Regions from separate parts of the Homo sapiens genome. Here regions 1, 2 and 4 are each reported to be linked to region 3. The links are microRNA targets in miRTarBase. Many come from high-throughput screens and were not tested one by one. Region 3 holds a microRNA gene; each other region holds the end of a gene's coding sequence.
Evidence for each region. The annotated mature microRNA hsa-miR-146a-3p reads CCUCUGAAAUUCAGUUCUUCAG and lies in region 3 at 2,320-2,341, opposite strand. An mRNA with a match to its seed (bases 2 to 7 or 8) in the 3' UTR can be bound and repressed. Matches are read on the target gene's strand: a 7mer-m8 pairs with bases 2 to 8, a 7mer-A1 pairs with bases 2 to 7 and ends in A, and an 8mer does both.

Region 1 (5,151 bases), not on the chromosome of region 3:
CAAAAGAAAAAGCAACTAATAAAATTGAAGGAAGAGCTGAACTACCGAATATTTTTCTTTAACTCAAGAACTTTCAGTTACAGGAAGATTTATCTAATATTAAAATGACTAAATTACAAAAAGCATAAAATGTTTGAAGCCATTTTTAAAGTTGTTTTGAAATCCATATTAGCACTCAGACTTCCCCACTCCCTAACTTTTGTTAATTGCTGTAATGGACATTTGTTGTTTTGATCTACCCAACATCCTTTCATCCTACTTTGGTAACTGATATTCTTTGGGGGAACTGATCTTTCCACTTTACATCATGTTTTGTGGAAATTTTTCAACTAAGGAACCTGCCCTATGCTAGCTAAGAGTTGAGTACGGTATGCAAACTAAATAAGTGCAACTCTCTCACTGTAATTTAACCTCCTTAAATCAAGTAAAGAAAATGACTGTGGCCAAGTCACCCCTGCTACCTAGGTCCTTGTAACTGCCCAGGCACCTCTCCCTTCTAAGGCCTATTTGGTCAGCTTGTCATTTTATTCTATCAGGTCCTCCCTAATGATTCCAATAAATTATTTTTGTTTGTTTTTTTAAAATGATCCAAACCCTGGTTTTATGGATTGAAACAGAAGAATCTATCTGATATAAAAATATTTTTACTTTGTGAAGGTTTGTAACATTCTTTTCTGTAATTATAATTCCTATATATCTTAATTATATACATGTGAATGGATTTAAACTTAACTTTGGTCCAATTATAATAATCTTTTATTTGTACATGTTGCTTGCTTAGCTAGATTTCCTTACTGAGTAACTTTTCTTCAAGAATGATTCATGGGTCCTGTATTTCTAGAACTCTTTTATGTTCAAAAATACCCATGTGCTGCCTTTGTACTAGAATAATATTTTGACTAGGTTTAATATTTTTAGGTCAAAATTTGTTTCCCTAAGAACTGTACACATGTTGCTTCACTGCCTTCTTAGATGCTTCTGGTCAAGATAGAGGAACAGGGACCATATTTATCCTCCCTCCTGAAACAATTGCAAAATAAGACAAAATATATGAAACAATTGCAAAATAAGGCAAAATATATGAAACAACAGGTCTCGAGATATTGGAAATCAGTCAATGAAGGATACTGATCCCTGATCACTGTCCTAATGCAGGATGTGGGAAACAGATGAGGTCACCTCTGTGACTGCCCCAGCTTACTGCCTGTAGAGAGTTTCTAGGCTGCAGTTCAGAGAGGGAGAAATTGGGTACAGTGGGACAGGCCTTCAACTCTTGTTTTATTGAATTTATGAACTTCTTAAATTCTTCTATGGCAGGAGACATCTATGGGGAGGCTTTGTTTGTTTTTTGAGACAGGGTCTCACTTTGTCGCCCAGGCTGAAGTACAATGGCCTGATCTTGGCTCACTGTAACCTCTGCCTCCTTGATTCAAGCAATTCTCTTGCCTCAGCCTTCTGAGTAGCTGGTATTACAGGCATGCACCACCACACCCAGCTAATTTTTGTATTTTTAGTAGAGACAGGATTTCACCACGTTGGCCAGGCTGGACTTGAACTCCTGACCTCAGGTGATCCACCTGCCTTGGCCTACCAAAATGCTGAGATTACAGGCGTGATCCACTGCGCCCAACTTATGGTGAGTTGTCTTTTGTCCCCTGAGTTATATATCCTTTCAGGATGGGTTCTTCATCTGGCTCATGTCATATTTCTTTTCTACATTTTTCCCCATTGTCTTTCGCCTAATGATCAGAACACTTATCTTTCTAATGCTTAATCAGGGCAGCTGGGTAGAGTCTTTCTTTTTACCTTAAGATAGTATAGAAGGGCTCTCTTTGACAACTTTCTTAGATGAAGTAGACTAGTTTGGCTTCTTCTCCAGTGTATAGCTGGAGGCCTGGGTGGTGTCTTCCATCTACTTTTGTGTAGCCTGATATGATCTGGTGTGAGATGAGGCCCTCGCTGTTAACCTGGTTTCTACTCTTTATTGTTGCCTAGGAACTTCCATTAAATCCACTGAATTCCATGAAGGAGGCAAAGCATCCAGGAATAAGACACAGCCCCCTTCATTGAATTCATGTGAAATCCTGGAAAATCCCTCCTGTGTCCACGGAGAGTCCCTGGGGACAATCAGGAGTTTCTGTGCTCAAGGGTCTCCCTGGCATTTCCCTGAGCTGCCTGCTCAATACCTCCGCCACCACCCTTCAAACTGGCCATATTAACAAGAATTCTGGTTTTCTTTTCTTTATGTGACATCTATTCATGACTACACTGGGCAGATGAGATAGTAGCTATGCCTTTATATAAAACTTTTAAATTCTTTTTTTTTGTTTTATTTATTTAATTTTTGGAGACAGGGTCTTGTTCTGTCACCCAGACTGGAGTGCACTGGTATGATCATAGCTCACTGTAACCTCAGACTTCTGAGGTCAAGTGATCGTCCTGCCTCAGCCTTCTGAGTAGCTAGGACTCCAGGTGTGCATCACCATTCCCAGCTAATTTTATTTATTTATTTATTTGTTTGTTTGTTTGTTTGTTTTTGTAGAGACAGGGTCTCACTATATTGCTCAAGCTGGTCTTGAACTCCTGGGCTCAAACAATCCTCCCACCTTGGCCTCCTAAAGTCCTGGGATCACAAGCATGAGCCACCATGCCCAACCTTTTCTAGTTTTTAAATTTTCATACATATCTATTAGATGTTTATAGTGTAAGGTTGAACTCCATTCTTTGCTTCTCTGTTGCTGGTAAATTTTTGGGTATATTTTTACTAATTTTGCACATTCTTTTACATATTGGTAAAGGAACAGTCTGTGATCTGGATTTATTCAGATCCTTATTCAGAATTACCAATTGTTTTATTAATCATTTTATCTTAAATGTGTCTCTACTTACTAGTGATTTGCAGTATATTCCAAGTTAGTTGTAAAAACATTTCACAATAGACTAATTTCTTGCTTTCCTGTGAAATTGTCTCAAATTTAAAAAGTAAAGTTCTTAATATTGTAAGTAGCTGCCAGAAATAAACCAATTCTAGCTTCAAGTTCATACTTCTTACAATGAGAATTTTAAATTTCTTTATTCTTGGGAAATAGCAGGGCCTTGCTGTTTTTAATAGTGAATTAACTCTGAATTTTTTAGTTTCTGTCTCTCAGAAAAGATGGATTTGTTTGGCTTTAAATATTGAGAGAGTTTCTAGAGACCCACAGGAAATGAGAAATTTGCACTTTTGTAGCAATGGCTTTTGAAAGACTAGCTAACATCCTGAAGACTCAGCAGAAGAAAGATATTAAACTGACTTTGTCGTTTTGTTGATTATTAAATTAAATGGAAAAACAAAATGTAACCTTTGAGTCCAATAGACTCATCCCCCTAGGCTCTCTATCATCTTCAAATCAATCAGTAAAACACAGTGTGCCTCCCTGGGGGACTGTGGCAGTCTTACCTTCATGTAGTAACCTAAGACGCTCCATAAGAATAAAAAATCAGAGCTAAGGAACAGATTCCACATAACCAAAAGGCTCACAAAAAGCATTTTAAAATATAGTGATCAAAAACACTAATGTCGTTAAAAGAAAAAGCAGAAAATAATAAAGTAATATAATGTGGTCTTGCAAAAAACAGTCTGTGATCTTACATTTCAAAACATGTCTTGCCCGTTCCCGGCACCTACAAGGCCAGATGAGCTACCTGCTCCATCCTTCACATTCTCGCTGCACGTCCCATTCAAGCTCTTCTGCAAGTGGCCATGTTAAAAATTTATAAAAATATCCGAGTCTGCCTGGCACGCTCAGAGATTCTCATGACAAGTTCTTCCCTCACTGAGCACTTCCCTGACCACCCAAAATAATCACCCCCTCCATCTACCTACACACATGTGCACGTGCGCGCGCGCACACACACACACACACACACACACACACACACACATCTCTGAGTCTCACGGTCCTCTAATTACTGATATCCCTTTTTACCATGGGAAATTCCTTGTCTATCTGTGTATTTGTCAGTGGTCTGTCTCTGCCCTAAAGGAGGAATCTTACATCGATTCGTTCTCAATCCCCAGCACCTAGAAAAGTATGTGACTTAATAAGTGAGTGTGTGCTTACATGTTTGGATTAAATGGTTTCACAGTTAATTAGAGATGAGAACCACTTAATTGTTTCTTAGGCTTGGGTTTCCTGTCACACAGAAGCCTTCAGAATATACAGATGTCTTTTTGCCCTAGAAGCCAAACAGAGCAGAAGATTGTAGGCCCCAGCCGGTGGGGCTACTCCTGGATTGATTCCAAACACGATATTTCTTTCCAGGCCTGAAAATCGACAGACACTGTCCAACACAATGTGATCGGTTAGAACATCCGACGCATCACCGATCTGTAGTAACAGATCAGACTCCTCATGGAGCTGAGACAGTTTTCTCTTCCTCATTGCTGTTAGAAGCCTGTCTTTATATTTTTCCACTTCACTTGCTTTGGTGAAAAGCACAGCAATATCCTTCGGAGAATAACCATTCCGCAAGAGAAAACGGCATTTATTCGCTACATAGATCAGTATCTCCTCCAAGTTCAAGTCTTCAATAATCTCTAAGTTGCCTGGGACACCTTGAGCCCATTTAGGTTCATAGAGCATCACCAGGGACCCAGGGGGGAGGTTAGGTGGAGGATTTTGTCGGGCTTCCTGCATTACTTGTTGTAGGTAATTAGCTATTGGACCTGCATTGCGGACCACTCTGTTGATCTCTTCTCTTGGATACTGGTCTGAGGGAGGGGGGAGGCCACTGCAACTCAAGTGATAGGTCTGAAAGTAGTCCAGAAAGATCCAGAGAACTCCTGGGCCATCCCTTGCTGTCTGAGTGATGAACTTTGCTTTCCCATACCAGTCCCCATCTTCAGTACGGAAATTCTGAGCGTCATCAATGATAATGTGCTGGATGTGTTCAAAGTTGTTTTTCATGAAGGTTTTCCGGGTCACTGGCTGGCAGATGTTTTTCTTGCTGAAACTGTAAGAAACAGAGTCAGGTTTTTCCCCAATGAAACAAAGAAAGCAGATTCTACTCTTAAACCCCTCTGGTCATGGTAAATACAATATGAATTTTAGCAAGTAAACTGAAAGCCACACCAGCCACAGTCACTCAAGAAAATAAAGTGAACACAGA
Region 2 (5,151 bases), not on the chromosome of region 3:
GTTTTACCCAGGTGAGAAGGTGTTTGGGATGGAGGCAAAGTCCAGTGTTCACTTTCTTCTCTTTCCCCTGTATGGAGGGTGTCTCTGTTGACACTATGGTGCCTGGGGTTGGGGAAGAGGTAATAAAAATAATGTAACACTGTCCTTCGTGCCCTCTTCAATGCATCCTTTTTTTTTTTTTTTTTTTGAGATGGAGTCTCGCTCTGTTGCCCAGGCTGAAGTGCAGTGGCACAATCTAAGCTCACTGCAACCTCAGCCTCCCAGGTTCAAGCGATCCTCCTACCTCAGCCCCCCTAGTAGGCGGGATTACAGGCACGCACCACCATGCCCGGCTAATTTTTGTATTTTTAGTAGAGACGGGGTTTTGCCATGTTGGCCAGGCTGGTCTCAAATTCCTGACCTCAGGTGACCCACCCACCTTGGCCTGCCAAAGTGCTGGGATTATAGGCGTGAGCCACTGCGCCCGGCCGCATCCTTTATTTCTACACTATACCCAGGTGCTGTGATCTCTTACTTGGTTTCTTTAGCTCTTGTGAAGGTAATTTTGTGCATGGAAAGCTATTCAAACTGATGTTTCTGCAGGGAGTCAAGTGCTAGAAAGTTCTATTCTGCCATCTTGCTGAAACCACTCCCGCTGATTTCCCTCTCTGAAGTTGTGACTCTTCACCTAATCAGCTTAAGTCCCATGGTTCATGTATTTCACACCAGTCAATCCAGGCTAAATCCAACTCTGCTGAATGTGGCTGGAACAAAACATACAACCCTGACAATTGATGTTATGTTAAACTCATGACCACTAACCTCAAGTGGGCCTTTAGTGTATCGTACATTTCCTTAATTTTTTCACTCTTCCCTATCCCCCAAACGTCTCACACCACCTCTACCATCCTCACTCTCAGCTAATAACTATGTTTTCAGTTTAACAGTGGAAATAAAAGCAATCAGACAAGAACACTCACAAGCTCTAGCATCTTCTCTGCCCACGCTCTGCCTTCCTCCTGGTTGGTGCTCCAGCGTCTGACCTCTTCACTAGTACCCTGGATCCCAGTGTCTTCACCTGCTCAGGCTCTGCTCTAGTCCATTCTCCTCCTCCTCTTCTCGTACAGCGTCAATTTTTCTACTTATCGTTCCCATGAGTATATAAATTTATCCTAGAATTTCTAATATTTTAAAACACCAAAATCCTCAAAAGCCCCCATCTCTTCAGTTACCCATCCGTTTCTCTGTGTTGGGAGACAATTCTCCATGGGTTTCTCACGTTTCTCACTATCTTACAAGTACATATGGTGATGGCTTTTGTTACAGGCTGTTTTCAGGATGAATAGCCTTAGATAGGTAATCCGTTCTCCAGAGCAACAGTTTGTTTAGCATCCAGTATAATATGTCTTCCTTCTAGACAAAGGTTTGATAGATTTACTTCTAGACCACTGTTTAAGATTCAGGCTCCCTAAACTTGGACCTCCCCTCCTGTAACTCCACCCAGCAAATGTGTATTCGAGGTCAGTACAGTATGTCTTCTGCCAGTATCCATGAAACTGGTAGCTTAACTTGTTACCTTGCAAGTAGGACAAAATCTCAGACTTTTCAGTCCTTAACACTTGGCCCCTTATTCACAGCTCCTGTTTCCAAGTTTATCTTGAATCCTCCTAGATTTACCCTGACCACTCCTTTATAACTGTTTTTTTCAAAATGACCTCACTGATGGTTAATCTCAGCATATATCCAACTTCATACAAATTATTAGTATTTGATATAGTGGCCACTCTTCTACTTCAAAATAAGTGTTTTCAGCTGGCTTCAGATACCACCCTCTACTGGTTTTCACCCTAACCCTGGTGGTTCCTTCTCAGTTTCATTTGCCAGTTCCTGCCCAGCAAACACTGGGGTGAGTGCTCGGGGCTCAGTCCTTGACATTCTTTATACTTTTTTTTCCTAGGTAATCTCACCTAGCTTTATGGCTTAAAATATTATCCCTGTGACAACTCCCAAATTTTTATTTCCTCTGAAATTGGGCTTCAGAGTCAGTCATCTTACCTCTAAACGCATAAGAGGCATGAGACAAACAGTTGCCACTTGGAATGACCATAGGGGAAGAAGGGTCCTTCTGGGAAAGCCTCATTACAGTCGGACCAGCAAGGCTGAAACTGAGATGGGAGATTTGCTGATTGTGCTGTTTCCCCTCCTGGTCCATCCTCCATCTTTCTACCCTGCTTTATCCCAGGAGGACGGCATCACCCGGGCTTCTGATTAGGTTCAGTTGATGGAGGCATCTTCAGGAGACAGCAATAAAGAGCTGAGGCTTTTCCCCCTCTGCTCCCTTTCCTGACAGTTCTGTGTTTCTCACAGTAGCTGCATCTTTGTAGAGCTTCAACATCCACTTAAGAGACACTCTTCCTTTTTATTTTTCTATCTCCTACAGGAAAGAGACCTTCCAACATTTTGGCTCTCACTGGGCTCTGAAACACCATTTCTTCCTTTGGTCCCTAGGGAGACAACAGCTTCTTGGCACTGCTGGTCTCTGGATTCCTTACCATCCGTTGTTTGTTCCCTTAATCCTTCTCTCATTCTCCAAGTCATCCTTTCATAAGGCGCTAATTCAGTTTACTGCTAAAGCCCTCACTGATAAAGCTGGTGAGGTCCACAGGTTAAAAATGGAAGGAATTCTATTCACCAGGCCCATAAAATCATATACAAAGACACACATATATAAGGGTTTATCTTTATTTTATAAAAACTGCTACACACACACATACACTCTCTCTCTCCCCTCTTGCTTTCCTCATTTGACCTAGAGAAGTTTGGAGTTTGTTCCCACACATTCTTTTCAAGGAAATACCATTCAGCCATGGTATGTTTTTACCACAATTTATTCATCCATTCCCTTACTGATGGTCTTTTTTTTGTTTGTTTTTTTGGTCCTTACCAAAAAATACAATATACATTAGTAAACATATAATCTTAAGTGCTGGCGCTTTTTATTCCTTAGGGATAGATTCCCAGGAGATTCCTAGGTTGTAAGAGTATATTAATGTTAAAACAGACTCACAATGTTGTCCAAGGAGGCTGTTACAATTTACATTTCTAAAAGCAGCTATGAAAATAACGTTTTCCCCTCCTTTGTGAGTAAGTAAGATGACAACTTAGACAAAAGCTTATTGGGCTATGGATGTTCTGGATAAATTTGTTCAGAAAGTCACTCAATATATAGTGTGACAGCACATCAATGATATCCAAAAATATTTTTTAAAAGCCAGTTTTTGGTTGCCATTTATAATTTCCAATACATGATTTGTGATTGATAGGGAAAGGCTGAACTTAAGAATTTGAAATCAAGTCTATAAAAGCAAATCTTTGAGTTACACAACAATTCTTGTTAATATCTGGAGAGACCACTGAAAAATCTGATTTTTATAAAAGTGTAAACATGTAAAGGAAAAGTAATAACTTATAACTCATGTTCCAAAGGGAAATGTTTTAGGTTGGCAACAGCAAAACTCAAGGAAGTAGAAATGCCTCCTTTAAACAACAAAATAGTGTAAAAATTTACTTCTAAAGGGGGTTATGCACGTGAAAAATTTAAAAAGCAATGAAACAGTTGACAGTTATTTAAAATAATTTTTCCTCTAAAGTCTCTGAAATGTAACATTTGTGAACTACAGAAGCATCCTACCATTTTTGCTAGACAATTCATGAAATATTAAGGGAAACAAGGAAAGACAAAAACAGGTGGTTTCTGTCTGTGTTACACAATATTTTGGTAACAGACATGCATTTGTATGCAAATATCCCACGGGAAAATAAGAGCATGACGAATGGGGATATTGTCTTTACACGGCAAACTCTTATTCTGTGGTGCATACTGAGTAGTACAGCTCATGTCTGCCTCCTTCACGTTATAGATCGGTTATTTCACATTTGCATATTTGTGTAAATAGTGCTTCTAGAAAATCTTCAGCAAACCAGAAGCAGGGAAAACTTCAACACTGTCTTCTGTTTCCTAAGAGGCAGCTCAAGAACAATGTTCATACCAACTGATATATGCCAGCAAGCAGTAGGGAAAGACGTAGGTTCCATGCTACTTTAAATGTTACACATTTCATTTGGAATGCATACTGGATTGCAGAGATACTGAAAAACACATGTGATGTTTAGTATGGAAAATCTTGTTATGTCCTAATTATCACAGAGGACAAGAATTTCAAATTCCCAGTGATTATGCTAAATTCACATGTGCAGATCTAAAGCATACCACTTGTGTTTTGTGGCATATCCACATAAAACCACTAAATTCATAGGATACTGTTTGTATATTTCTTATGCTGCTGTCTAGAATACTCAATTCATTCAAGATTTTAAAAAGCTCATTGTAGTACAACTGGGTATGGCTATTTACAACTGGATATATTCTGATATGTATTCTTTAGCTGGGTATCACATGTAACTTCCAGTATAATGTTCTCATGGGATCCTATTTTTAATACATTTTTGAGTTGAGAGATTGCATCTCAGTATGAATTCCCATGTTCCCTCAATACTGTCATGAGGTTTTTCACCCGCTTGAAGAGTTCTGGCAGGAGTTTTCCACAGTAAGACCTGGCTGGAGTTTCAGGGTTTCTCCCCGATGTGAACTCTCTGATGGACACTGAGTCGGGACTTCCTGCTAAAGGCCTTCCCACATTCGGAACACTCATATGGTTTCTCTCCTGTGTGGATTCGCAAGTGTAATCTAAGAGTTGACCTCTGGCTGAAAGTTTTGCCGCACTCAGTACATTCATAGGGTTTCTCTCCTGTATGAGTTCTCATGTGTATGATGAGCTGTGAGTTCTGGATAAAGGATTTTCCACATTCACTGCACTCATAGCGTTTCTCCCCCGTGTGAATCTTCTGATGTATGATAAGGTTTGACTTCTTAAAGAAGGTTTTTGCACATTCGTTACACTCATAGGGTCGCTCTCCTGTATGAATTCTCTGGTGTGTGGTGAGTTCAAACTTTTGGGCAAATGTCTTTCCACATTCACTGCACTCATAGGGCTTCTTCTCCATATGTGCTCTCTGGTGTACAATGAGGTTTGACTGGTGGGTGAAAGCTTTTCCACATTCCGGACACTCGAAAGGTTTCTCCCCAGTGTGAATTCTCTGATGTTTGATGAG
Region 3 (5,151 bases):
TGGCACACATGGATGGATTTTTGGAGAGAGTTCTTTTTTTATTTAGGCAGAAAAGCATGATTAAGGGAGAGGGGAAAAAAATCACTTGCAATCTTAACACCCACTACCCACTGGATATCCATACACTTACACGGATACACACACACTTCTCCTCGTGCAAAAAAAAAAAGAATCACACTACATATTACCCTGTGCCTATCTTCTTCATGGGACAACAAATCAGGGCTCTCTCTCCACTCCTCCATGACCCACCTCTATGGCATACTGTCTAATAAATGCACAGCATGAGTACTGTCTGGACTCATCACAATTGGGTGTTATATTGTCTTCAATAACTTTATTGTTGTAACCAAACATGTTCTGTGTTAAGTCAAACAATAGAGAAAAATACAACCAAAAAGAAAAACACATCTCAAATCCCACCACGTCAGAGATAACCATTGTTAGCAAATTGATGTACATCTTTCAACACACGTATTCCTACATACATTTATTATTTTACATAAACTGAATCATAGACACCAAGTTATTTTGCAACATGCTTTTTCCACTTACATAAACCAAGTTTTGGTAAAGCAAATACAACCTCAAAAATCTTTGAGAAATGTACTATCTAATGGAATCTTAACACAAATTCTCTATGAAATGAAGCATTCTTTTATACAGTGAATTTCTGCCTACTCCTCACAGATACACTAGGTTAATTTTTTAATGTGTGTGTGTATCTGTGAATTCCATATTTCATTTATTAGGTTTGCTTTAGGAAGAGTGCCCCTGAAATAAAAATGAGCCTTTTGTACTAAATCGGAGTTCTGAGCCAAAGTCAGTGTCCACAGCACAGAGGAGCTGAAACCCAGAGCATTTGGAGCTTCTAGTATATATTCTGGATTTTCTCCATCAGTCTAGGACTGAAGACACCGATCTCTGGTGTCGGTTGAGATTTCACCAAGGTTCTGGTTCTGGAATGAGTCACTGGCTAAGGGTCTGATAAGCAAAGGGCGGAAGTGGGCAGAGTGTGAGAAGGGTGGGGGAGGTCCTTGATCTGATCAGTACAACCCAGAGAACACACCCATGTCCCACACGCTTGCGAGGGGGCCTTCATAATAACCAAGCACCCCTTTCCATCTGTAGAACATGGTTACGTGTTTTTCAATTTGCCATCCTGTTGTTAATTTGTCCCCGTTTTCCAGATGAGGCTTGGTGAGATTCACTGAGATCATGCATACAAAGAAAGCCCTGAGCACAGTGCTTGGCACATAGTGGGCACTCAGTAAACCTCGGTGTCACTGAGAAGACAGAATGAGAATGAGCATGCTGTGGAGTCTTTCACCTGCCTCTCCTCTGGGACAGGTTACTCTTTCATTCTGTAGACTGTAATGACATGGAAATTCCAAGATACCAAGAGACAATGATGAATCAAAGATGAGTTCCCAAAAGACAAATCACATCCCTTATTCCCCATCAAATCTAAAGCCTAATAAAGTCCATATAGCACTCATGAGGCCTCTAACCTTCTGCCTAAAAGTGATCATCATCACAGCAAACCTGAGCCTCAGAAAGGACCTAGCTTACTTGGTGACAGAGGAGGGCAACAGAAGGACTTGGCCCATGGCACCCAGCTGACCATGTCAGCAAATAGAGAGGCCTTCAAAGCCTTTGCATTCCTGTTCCCTGGAGAAACTGAGGATTGCAGTAAAGTGTAATTACAACCTCTTTTTGCCTTGTTTGAAATACAAAGGGACAATGTAGCCCTAATATATTTATAGAAGGAAGTAGAGATCAAATAAAGGAAGAGGGGGACCAAAAGAAGGGCATATCCATGTTTCTCATCTTCTTTCACTGCAGATCTTAAAAAGGAACCAGAAGCCTCAGCAGTCCCTGCTAAAGAATCATTGTCACATTCTATTAGTTCCCTCTGATCCCGTGAAGAGGGGGGAAAAATCATTGCATGGCAATGCCATGTGTCTCAAGCTTCATTAAAGTGATTTCTCCCAAGAGTCTCGTATAACAGCATGTAAAGCACTTACAACAGTACCTGAATCATCGTAAGTAATCAATAAATGTAAACGAGTAGCAGCAGCAGCAAGAGAGACTTGCTGAGATCATTCATTTAGCTACTTGGAACCCTGCTTAGCATAGAATTCAAGTCTTTTCACAATCAAATGAGTGTTTCTCACAGGAACTCACACTCCTTATACCTTCAGAGCCTGAGACTCTGCCTTCTGTCTCCAGTCTTCCAAGCTCTTCAGCAGACTGAAAAAGTTCTTCAGGATCTACTCTCTCCAGGTCCTCAAGCCCACGATGACAGAGATATCCCAGCTGAAGAACTGAATTTCAGAGGTCTGACACTGACACAACCCATGGAATTCAGTTCTCAAAGCTGAGGATACACATCGGCTTTTCAGAGATGGTGCAAAGACCCCTCCTTGCAGTCCAGGCCTGTCCCAGCCCTGTAAAATACAAGAGTGAAAAGCCTGGTAAATCCAATGCAGCTGCTTCCTAGTACCAGGTCTAGTCCTGGCACTCATGAGTTATAAACATCTGGAGGAGACCAGGCCAGCAGTCTGGAAGGCTGATGTGGGTGGATCTCTTGAGCCCAGGAGTTCAGGACTAGCCTGGGCAACATGGAGAATTTGTCTCTACTAAAAATAAAAAATGAGCCATGCATGATGGCCTGTGGTGGGAGGATCGCTTGAGCCTGGGAATTGGAGGTTGCAGTGAGCTATGATTGCACCACTGCACTCCAGTCTGGGCCACAGAGAGAGACCCTGTCAAAACAAAAACTAATCTGTAGGGGATGTGTATGGTAGACACACACATCATTAAGCATCATTAAACATGGTAGCTGGCCTTTCCTGCCTCATGACCCTTCCATATGCCATCCCTCTGGCCTGGAAAACTCGTTCCTCTCTTTAACATCAACTTATCCTGATGTTCTTGCTTTCAATGTCACTTCCTCAGAGAGGCCATCTATGGCAGAGATTGCTGATTGTTTGCCCAATATATATTCTCTCCTCCTTCTATACTAATAGAACCCTTAAGTGGTATCTGAACACATGGACATCTGACTTTGTTTCCTCACCTGGTGTGACAAAGTGCTGGATATGAGCAGGAGTGGAGAGTTTTTTACTGTTTCCCTCCCTCTTCTCAGGCTTGGACTGTAGACATGGTAGAGAGCCACTGTGGACCATGCAAATGAGTGCAGCCCCCCAGGGAACAGCAGAGCAGCATGCCAGAAGAGCCCCAAAAGTGTGAGGCTTCCTTATACACCCTAGACTGCTTACACCTGCACTGATAGATCAGCAAGAATGGAACATTTACCTTATTTAAGCCACTGTTACTTGGGGATCTCTGTAAGAGCACTTGAATGTTTACCTACCACTCCCTCACCATCAGCCTCCAGCTAGTCTCTTTCATAATATGGGATTCTTTCCTTCACCGTAATTTGTAATTGTTAGATAATTTTGTATAATTATTTGATTAAAATTATCTCTCCAACAAGACTGTTTTCCATAAGCATAGAGACCATGCTAGTGTTTTTTAAATATGTATATAGGCGAGATGTGGTGACTCACACCTGTAATCTCGGAACTTTGGGAGGCTGAGGCAGGCAGATCACCTGAGGTCAGGAGTTCAAGTTTCACTTGGCTAACATGGTGAAACCCCGTCTCTAACAAAAATACAAAAATTCGCCAGGCATGGTGGCGCACACCTGTAGTCCCAGCTACTTGGGAGGCTGAGGCAGAAGAATCACTTGAACCCAGGAGGCAGAGGTTGCAGTGAGCTAAGATTGCACAACTGCACTCCAGGCTGGGTGACAAAGCGAGACTCTGTCTCTAAAAAATAATAATAAAATAAAATAAGTATATAATAGCCTTATTGAGCTATAGCTATATAGCTCACACACCAGAAAATTTACCTATTTAAAGTAAAAAATGCATTGGTTTTTAGTATTTTGCAGAGTTGTACAACCATCATAATCAATTCCAGAACATTTTCATCATCCCCAAAATAGATCCCATAACCATTAACAGTCAATCTCCATTCCCCTCCCTCACCCCTGGGGAATCACTGATCTACGTTCTGTCTATATATATGCTGGACATCTTATATAAATGAAATCATATAATCAGCGGCCTTTTGTGACTGGCTTCTTTCACTTAGCTTTCAGGATATATCCATGTTTTAATGCGTATCAGTACATCCTTCCTATGGATGAATAATATTCCATCGTTAGGATCTACCACATTTCATTTATCCATTCATCAGCTGATGGGCATTTGGGTTGTTGCTACCTTTTGCCTATTTGATGCTTCTATGAATGAATACCCATGTACAAGTTTTGTATGGACATATGTTTGCATTTCTCATGGATGTGTGAACCCAAAAGTATCTGAGACAGACCTGAATCCATTTAGGAAGTTTATTTTGCCAAGGTTAAGAACATGCCTGTCACACAGCCTCAGAAGGTCCTGACAACATTGTGCCCAAGGTGGTCGGGGCACAGCTTGGTTTTATACATTATAGGGAAACATGAGACATCAATCAGTATATGTAAGATGTACATTGGTTCAGTCTGGAGAGCTGGGACAACTAGAAGCAGGGGTGGGGGCTTCCAGATCATAGGTAGATACAAGACAAACTGTTGCATTTTTTTGTCTCTGGTTAGCCTTTTACTGAATACACAATTTACATGTGAGAGGAGGGTAGAGGAATAGTCACTTATTCCTTAGTCTGGCTTAGTGAAATAATAGGGCAGAAGAAGCAATCAGATATGCATTGGTCTCACATGAGCAAAAGAATGACTGAATTCTGTCTGTCCTTTGTCCACAAGGAATTTCCTAGTGGGCAAATTGTGAGGGAGGTATGTAGCTTTTTTATCTTTGTAGCTAGCTTACGTAGGAATAAAATGGGAGGCAGGTTTGCCTCACACAGTTCCCAGTTTGACTTCCCTTTGGCTTAGTGATTTTGGGAGTTCTGAGATCTATTTTCCTTTCACAGACGTATACCTAAGTGTGGAATTTCTGTGTCATATGTTAACTCTATGGCTATCAGTTGATGAATGGCCAGACTGTTTTCCAAAGCGGCCACACTATTTTACAATTCCACCAGCAGTGTATGAGGGTTCCAGTTTCTCCACATCTTGCCAAT
Region 4 (5,150 bases), not on the chromosome of region 3:
CAAACACCATCTCAAGGAACCTTTGCAATCTGGAAAGTCAGGTCTTCCTCTTACAGAGCAGGAGCTGGTAAATGGAAGCACCTGGATTCATACTTTATCCTGACCACAGGCCCCTTTCTTATAAGCTCCAGCTGAGCCATGGGTGAGTGAGAACTGTGGGTGAGGGGGAGCTTTGAGTACAGCTTCTGCCTAAAGATTTAGTGACAGCCCTCAGATGACAGCCAAGTTATCACTGCCTGGGGAGGGTCTTCATCTGTGTTCCCAGTGGGCACAGGGCCTGGCACTGAGCATGCACCCAGGAAGGGTTAACCCTCACCCTATCCCTTCCCTAAAGCGTCGCTTAGTGAGCTAATGGAAGTGACCCAGCTCTTCCAGGAGCTACCAGCAGAGGGAGCCCGCGTCTCACAAGTAAAAAGGGCAGGCTCAGTAGGGAGGGCTGGATTCCGAACTTTCATTTTAATTAAAAAAATTTTTTTTGAGACAGAGTCTCGCTCTGTCTCCCAGGCTGGAGTGCAGTGGCGCAATCTCGGCTCACTGCAGCCTCCACCCCCCGGGTTCAAGTGATTCTCCTGCCTCAGCCTCCTGAGTAGCTGGGATCATAGGCATGCACCACCATGCCCGGCTCATTTTTGTATTTTTAGTAGAGAAGGGTTTTTGCCATGTTGGCCAGGCTGGTCTCGAACTCCAGACCTCAGGTGATCTGCCCACCTAAGCCTCCCGAAGTGCTGGGATTACAGGCGTGTGCCACCGTGCCCGGCCTGAACTTTTTGAAGTCAACTCTTCTCTTTCAGAAAACAGGACCCAAGACAGCACTCCCTTCCTCAAGGATAACCCCTACCCACCCCACCTCAGGAAGAGACGCAGAGTCAGTCTCCCCTGTGGGGACTGGGAGTCAGTCAGGTACTGTCAGGGTGGAAATGAGAAGCTGGGCCCCCTTGCCCAGCCTGGTCTCCAGCAAGGCCTAGCTAGTGGCTCCCTGACCTCACTTCCCACACCACCTCCTCCCATGACAGCCTGCCCAGGGAGAGAAGACACAGCCACAGGGACAAGGGGCTTCCAGCCCAGCTGAGAACACGGCTCTTTGCCCCTGACCTCCAGCCTCTTCTTCCCCTTGTTCCTTTCCCTTAGAGGACAGCTTTATGGACTCCCCGGCTGACCTGTTGTAACTGCACCCCCAGAGCAGCCCCTCAGGAAGCTCTCACCCTCTGTGCCCAATCCCTGGGGCAACTCCCCTGTACCTTTTTTATTGGATCCGAGTCTAGGACTGGCCCCAGGTGCCACAAGGGTGGCAGATGCTGGGTAAGAACTCTGTACCCAGTTCAGAGGTCTGACTGCAGCTCCAACGAAGTCTCCAGCTAGCCGTGTGGCCTCAACAAGTCACTGGGCCACCTCAATCCTGTTTCCTTATCTGCCAAAATGGGGCTAAGTCTGGCTTATTTACTTCACTTGGCTGTTGAAAGATGAAACAAGATAATGCTTGTAAAATGGTCTGAGGAAATACGAAGCTTTGCAAAAGTTTCAGACCGACCAGAACTGCCATTTTCAGAGCGGCGGAGGCACCGGGTCAGAGCCGCTTGAGGACTATGCTGGGCAGACAGGGTCGAGACAGGTGATCTCACCGCTCCTGCCACATGCTTCCCTACAGGCCTCAGCCTCCTTTTGCAATAAAATGACCCAGATGCTGCAGGCTGGCAGCTCCATCTCAGGTTTCAGTGCAGGTTTATTTCAGTTTTATATTTTATTCCAGGCAAGTGCTTATTACATGGATAGTATTCATGTCTCGGTAACTAAAGTCTTGGAGCATGAACAGCCACTAGAATACAGTTCAATAGTAAAAATACAGTATGTACAAAATTAGGGTTTTTGTAGTTTTTTTTTTTTTCCACACAGCAGATGTATCCAAACACATAAAAATCTCTACAGTCTGGGGTCGCTACAGTTTATATTTCAGGAAACAGAGACACAGTGGCCGAGTCCTCACTGTAAACAAGGGCCACCTCTGGGGGTTGGGGGTGGGACCCTGGGATGGGGGGAGAAGCAGCTGTTTCTGGAGAGAGAAGGGGTCATGGTGGCCCCCCAGTTACCCTCCAGGCATTCCCTGCCTTCTTTGGCCCCCCAAGGAACCAACCTCCCCCTCTCCCCGAGGTAAGGACTCCCAGCCAGTGAGCCACTCTGAACATCAAAAGGTAAAACACGCATGAGAGGTAAGATGTGTGCGTGTGCGTGCGTGTGTGTGTGTGTGTGTGTGTGTGTGTGTCCCAGGCTGGAAGGGCTAGGGAGGGAGGGCCAGGCGGTCCCACAGGGTGAGGACAGATGTGGTCCCGACAGCACTCTGGGGGAGACGCCCAAGGAAGGGCTGGGTGGTGACTGCCCACTTGGGCACACAGCATCACAGCGTTCACAAACGACAAGAAAAACAGCAACACCCATCGTCACCAATCTGGACATAGTCATTCGGCACTAGATTTGCAGGCCCCCGATGCTGGGGGACAGGGACGGGGAGGGGCAGCGGGTGGATGATGAGGTATCTGTGCAGGCCCGGGGGCCACTGGCCTCAGGATGCAGGGAGAGGTGGGCAGGCTGAGGGGAGGGGCGAGCTCCACGAGGCTGCTCTAACTGCCCCGTGGGTCAGGCCTGCCATCGCTGTCACAATGGGAATAGCAAAGCTGGCTCTCCCAGAGCCACGGGGTCTGGCGGAGGTGGCTGTGCTGGGGTGGGTACAGGGCTCAGCCTCTGAGGATGGTGACCTGGTTTGTAACTGTCCCTTTACCCACACCAGGAGAGAGAAATAAGGAACAGTCCCCTGGGAGGTGTCCAGGACCAGGAGGGAACAGGAAGGGAATTTTTAGGCATCTAAGGATTCTTTATTTCCAGAGAAAATCTATTCAAGACCTTTGCTGACCTCCTCTGTGCCTGCAGGGCACTCCAGGAAATCCTCAGCTCTGTCCCCTCCCCCCGGCCCCCTCGCCGGCCCAGGCCCCTGCCCCAGCCCATCAGTGTGAGCTTCACATCCAGGGACACCGGCTTCCTCCCGCTACACTGAAAGGCCACTGGTGAGTGTGTGTCCAGGTGGGGAGCCGAGCGTGTCTGACACAAAGCCACTTGTAATAAACACCCACATACAAGGAAAGGCCAAAGCAGGCTGCCCAGAGGCAGAGAAAGCCGCATCCTAACACAGAGCCCCTGACTCCTCCCCCTTCCACGCTCAGCCCTGTCCTTGACCCAACCAAGGACCTCTTCTCAGAGAAAGGTGCTGCTGCTCTGCAGCTCCCCGGGCAGGGCCCACTCAAAAGCGTCCCCGGGAGAAGCAGGGTGTTGAGGGGATGGGAGGACAGAGGCAAAGGGGCTGGAGCAGAAGCAGCAGCCCTAGCTCTGGCCCTCTGTTCTGTATAGGTCCCAGGGTTGGTCTGGGGACAGGCTTAGGGCTTGGCTAAGCCGCTGGGTTTTTACCTTCCTGATGTCTCAACGATGTGGCTTCTATGCTCCTGGAAACAAGACCAGATGCTGGTCCATGTCTCCCAAACTGCAGGAGGCACCCAAACCCACAGGCCGCCAGGCCCACCTGTCCCTTGGAGCAGTGCCCAGCACTCAGCAGAGGTCAGAGATCAGGGGCTGAACGCAGGACAGCGCCCCTCTTTGCTGCCTTCTGGAAGCCAAGAGCCAAGCCCAGGGCTGGGGACTGGGGACTGGGGACAGGGGCCCAGTGGCTCTCCTCCCATCCAGACCCAGGCTGCAGGGGACGGGGAAGGGGAAGGACAGCCAAGTCCCTCCTTCCCCACCTCAGCCTGCCCTCCTGAGGTCCAGAGCCCAGTGGCAGGGATTGGGGTGAGGGCACAGGAAGCTTGGCAGTGGCTGGGTTTGGTTTATTGTTGGTAGAGAATCATTTTAAGTAGTATCTACGGTAACGAATCACAGTGACTGCAACCGGGTCAGAGAGCCCCAGGCTGAGGCCCCACCTGTCCGGGTGGGACTCCAGACCAGCCACTTCCTATGATCTGTCACCTGTGCTCAGAGCAAGGCCCCTTATCACCCCAATCCGCAGCTTTCTGGGCCAAGTGGCTTCAGTTCTGCTTTCCCCATTTCCCCTCCAAAGGCCTGGGAAGAGAACATGAGGCTCCGGAGGAAAGCCGGGGGCCTGGGCCACCTCACCAGACAGCAATAGCAGCAGCAGCACACGAAGGCGGGGCAGGGCGGGGGAGAAGTCAGGGAGCGTGACGTCCACATCGCACTGATTTCCGAGGGTAGGGAGGGGAAGCAGGAGCGGCACTGGAGCTGGCACTGGGCCGGACAGGTGGCACATTCCATCAGAGTCTCGCATTTTCTCAGAGTCATCTTACCAAGTCCTAGTGCAGCAGGGTGGCCCTTCCCTCCCTTGGCTCAGAGTCTTTGCACCCCCTTCCCCTAGGAGGCCTGGGGGTGGGTGGGGGGGCTGGCCTGGGCCTGGCTGGAATGTGTGGAGCTGGTGGGTGAGAGAGTGGGGGACAGGTCCCCCTCCCTGTCCCCACTGGGGGCCTCTGAGTGGCCTCGTCCTCAAGCCAGCTTGAGTGTGCTGACTGGGAAGGAGGGCATGGTGACCATGGTCACAGGGTTGAGCACGGTCTGGCCCACCAGCTGGGGGTGGTGCACCACCTGAGCCCCCACGGCCGGCTTTGCCATGACAGTAGCCGGGGGCCCCAGGCCGGCCGTGCCGTTGACTTGCTGGTGCGAGAGGGTGTGGGCGATGTGGCTCACTGCCACGGGCTGCGGGTACAAGGGCAGCTGGGAGCCCAGGTGGGCCACATGGTTGAGGGTGGCAGGGTGCACAGTGATGTGCCCAATGGGGGGTGTGGCAGGCGCCAGTTGCACCGCAGGGCTGGGGGCCGAGGGGGCGATGTGGGCGATGTGCTTGCCGCCTGGCCCCTGCAGAACGTGGTTCACAGTCTGGATGACTGAAGCGTGAGTGGTGGCTGTGTGGGCGATGACCGTGGAGCCACCCCCAGCCGTCGCCACCAGATGGGCTGGAGCTGGCACCAGTGTCTGGGCAGGGGCAGCCGGTGGGGGAGGAGGGGCTGGCAGAGGGGTCTTCTGCTGTGGCTGCTGCTGCTGCACGGGGAGGTGGGCAGGAGGTAGGGCCACGGAGTGGGGGTGAGGGTGTGGGTGTGGAGGCAGAG

Region 1: miRTarBase lists SLFN5 as a target of hsa-miR-146a-3p. Seed matches in the 3' UTR shown: 7mer-A1 at 3,925-3,931 and 7mer-m8 at 3,121-3,127.
Region 2: the mRNA of ZFP1 is a reported target of hsa-miR-146a-3p. Seed matches in the 3' UTR shown: 8mer at 3,630-3,637.
Region 4: the mRNA of MNT is a reported target of hsa-miR-146a-3p. Seed matches in the 3' UTR shown: 7mer-m8 at 2,171-2,177.

The regions. Positions count from the first base shown.
Region 1 is chr17:35,264,916-35,270,066 of GRCh38, reverse strand. It overlaps SLFN5 (schlafen family member 5), which reads right to left. Exons shown (of 5, transcript NM_144975.4): 5 at 1-4,995. The coding sequence ends at 4,179. Among named protein-coding and RNA genes, the nearest start is that of SLFN5, 24 kb to the right of the region's middle.
Region 2 is chr16:75,169,789-75,174,939 of GRCh38, reverse strand. ZFP1 (ZFP1 zinc finger protein) reads right to left here. Exons shown (of 4, transcript NM_153688.4): 4 at 2,706-5,151. The coding sequence ends at 4,606. Among named protein-coding and RNA genes, the nearest start is that of ZFP1, 24 kb to the right of the region's middle.
Region 3 is chr5:160,482,598-160,487,748 of GRCh38, reverse strand. MIR146A (microRNA 146a) reads right to left here and starts at 2,397; the gene lies at 2,299-2,397. MIR3142HG (MIR3142 host gene) reads right to left here. Exons shown (of 2, transcript NR_132748.1): 2 at 323-2,450.
Region 4 is chr17:2,382,371-2,387,520 of GRCh38, forward strand. It overlaps MNT (MAX network transcriptional repressor), which reads right to left. Exons shown (of 6, transcript NM_020310.3): 6 at 1,703-5,150. The coding sequence ends at 4,531. Among named protein-coding and RNA genes, the nearest start is that of MNT, 16 kb to the right of the region's middle. RefSeq lists enhancers at 451-660, 3,613-4,437.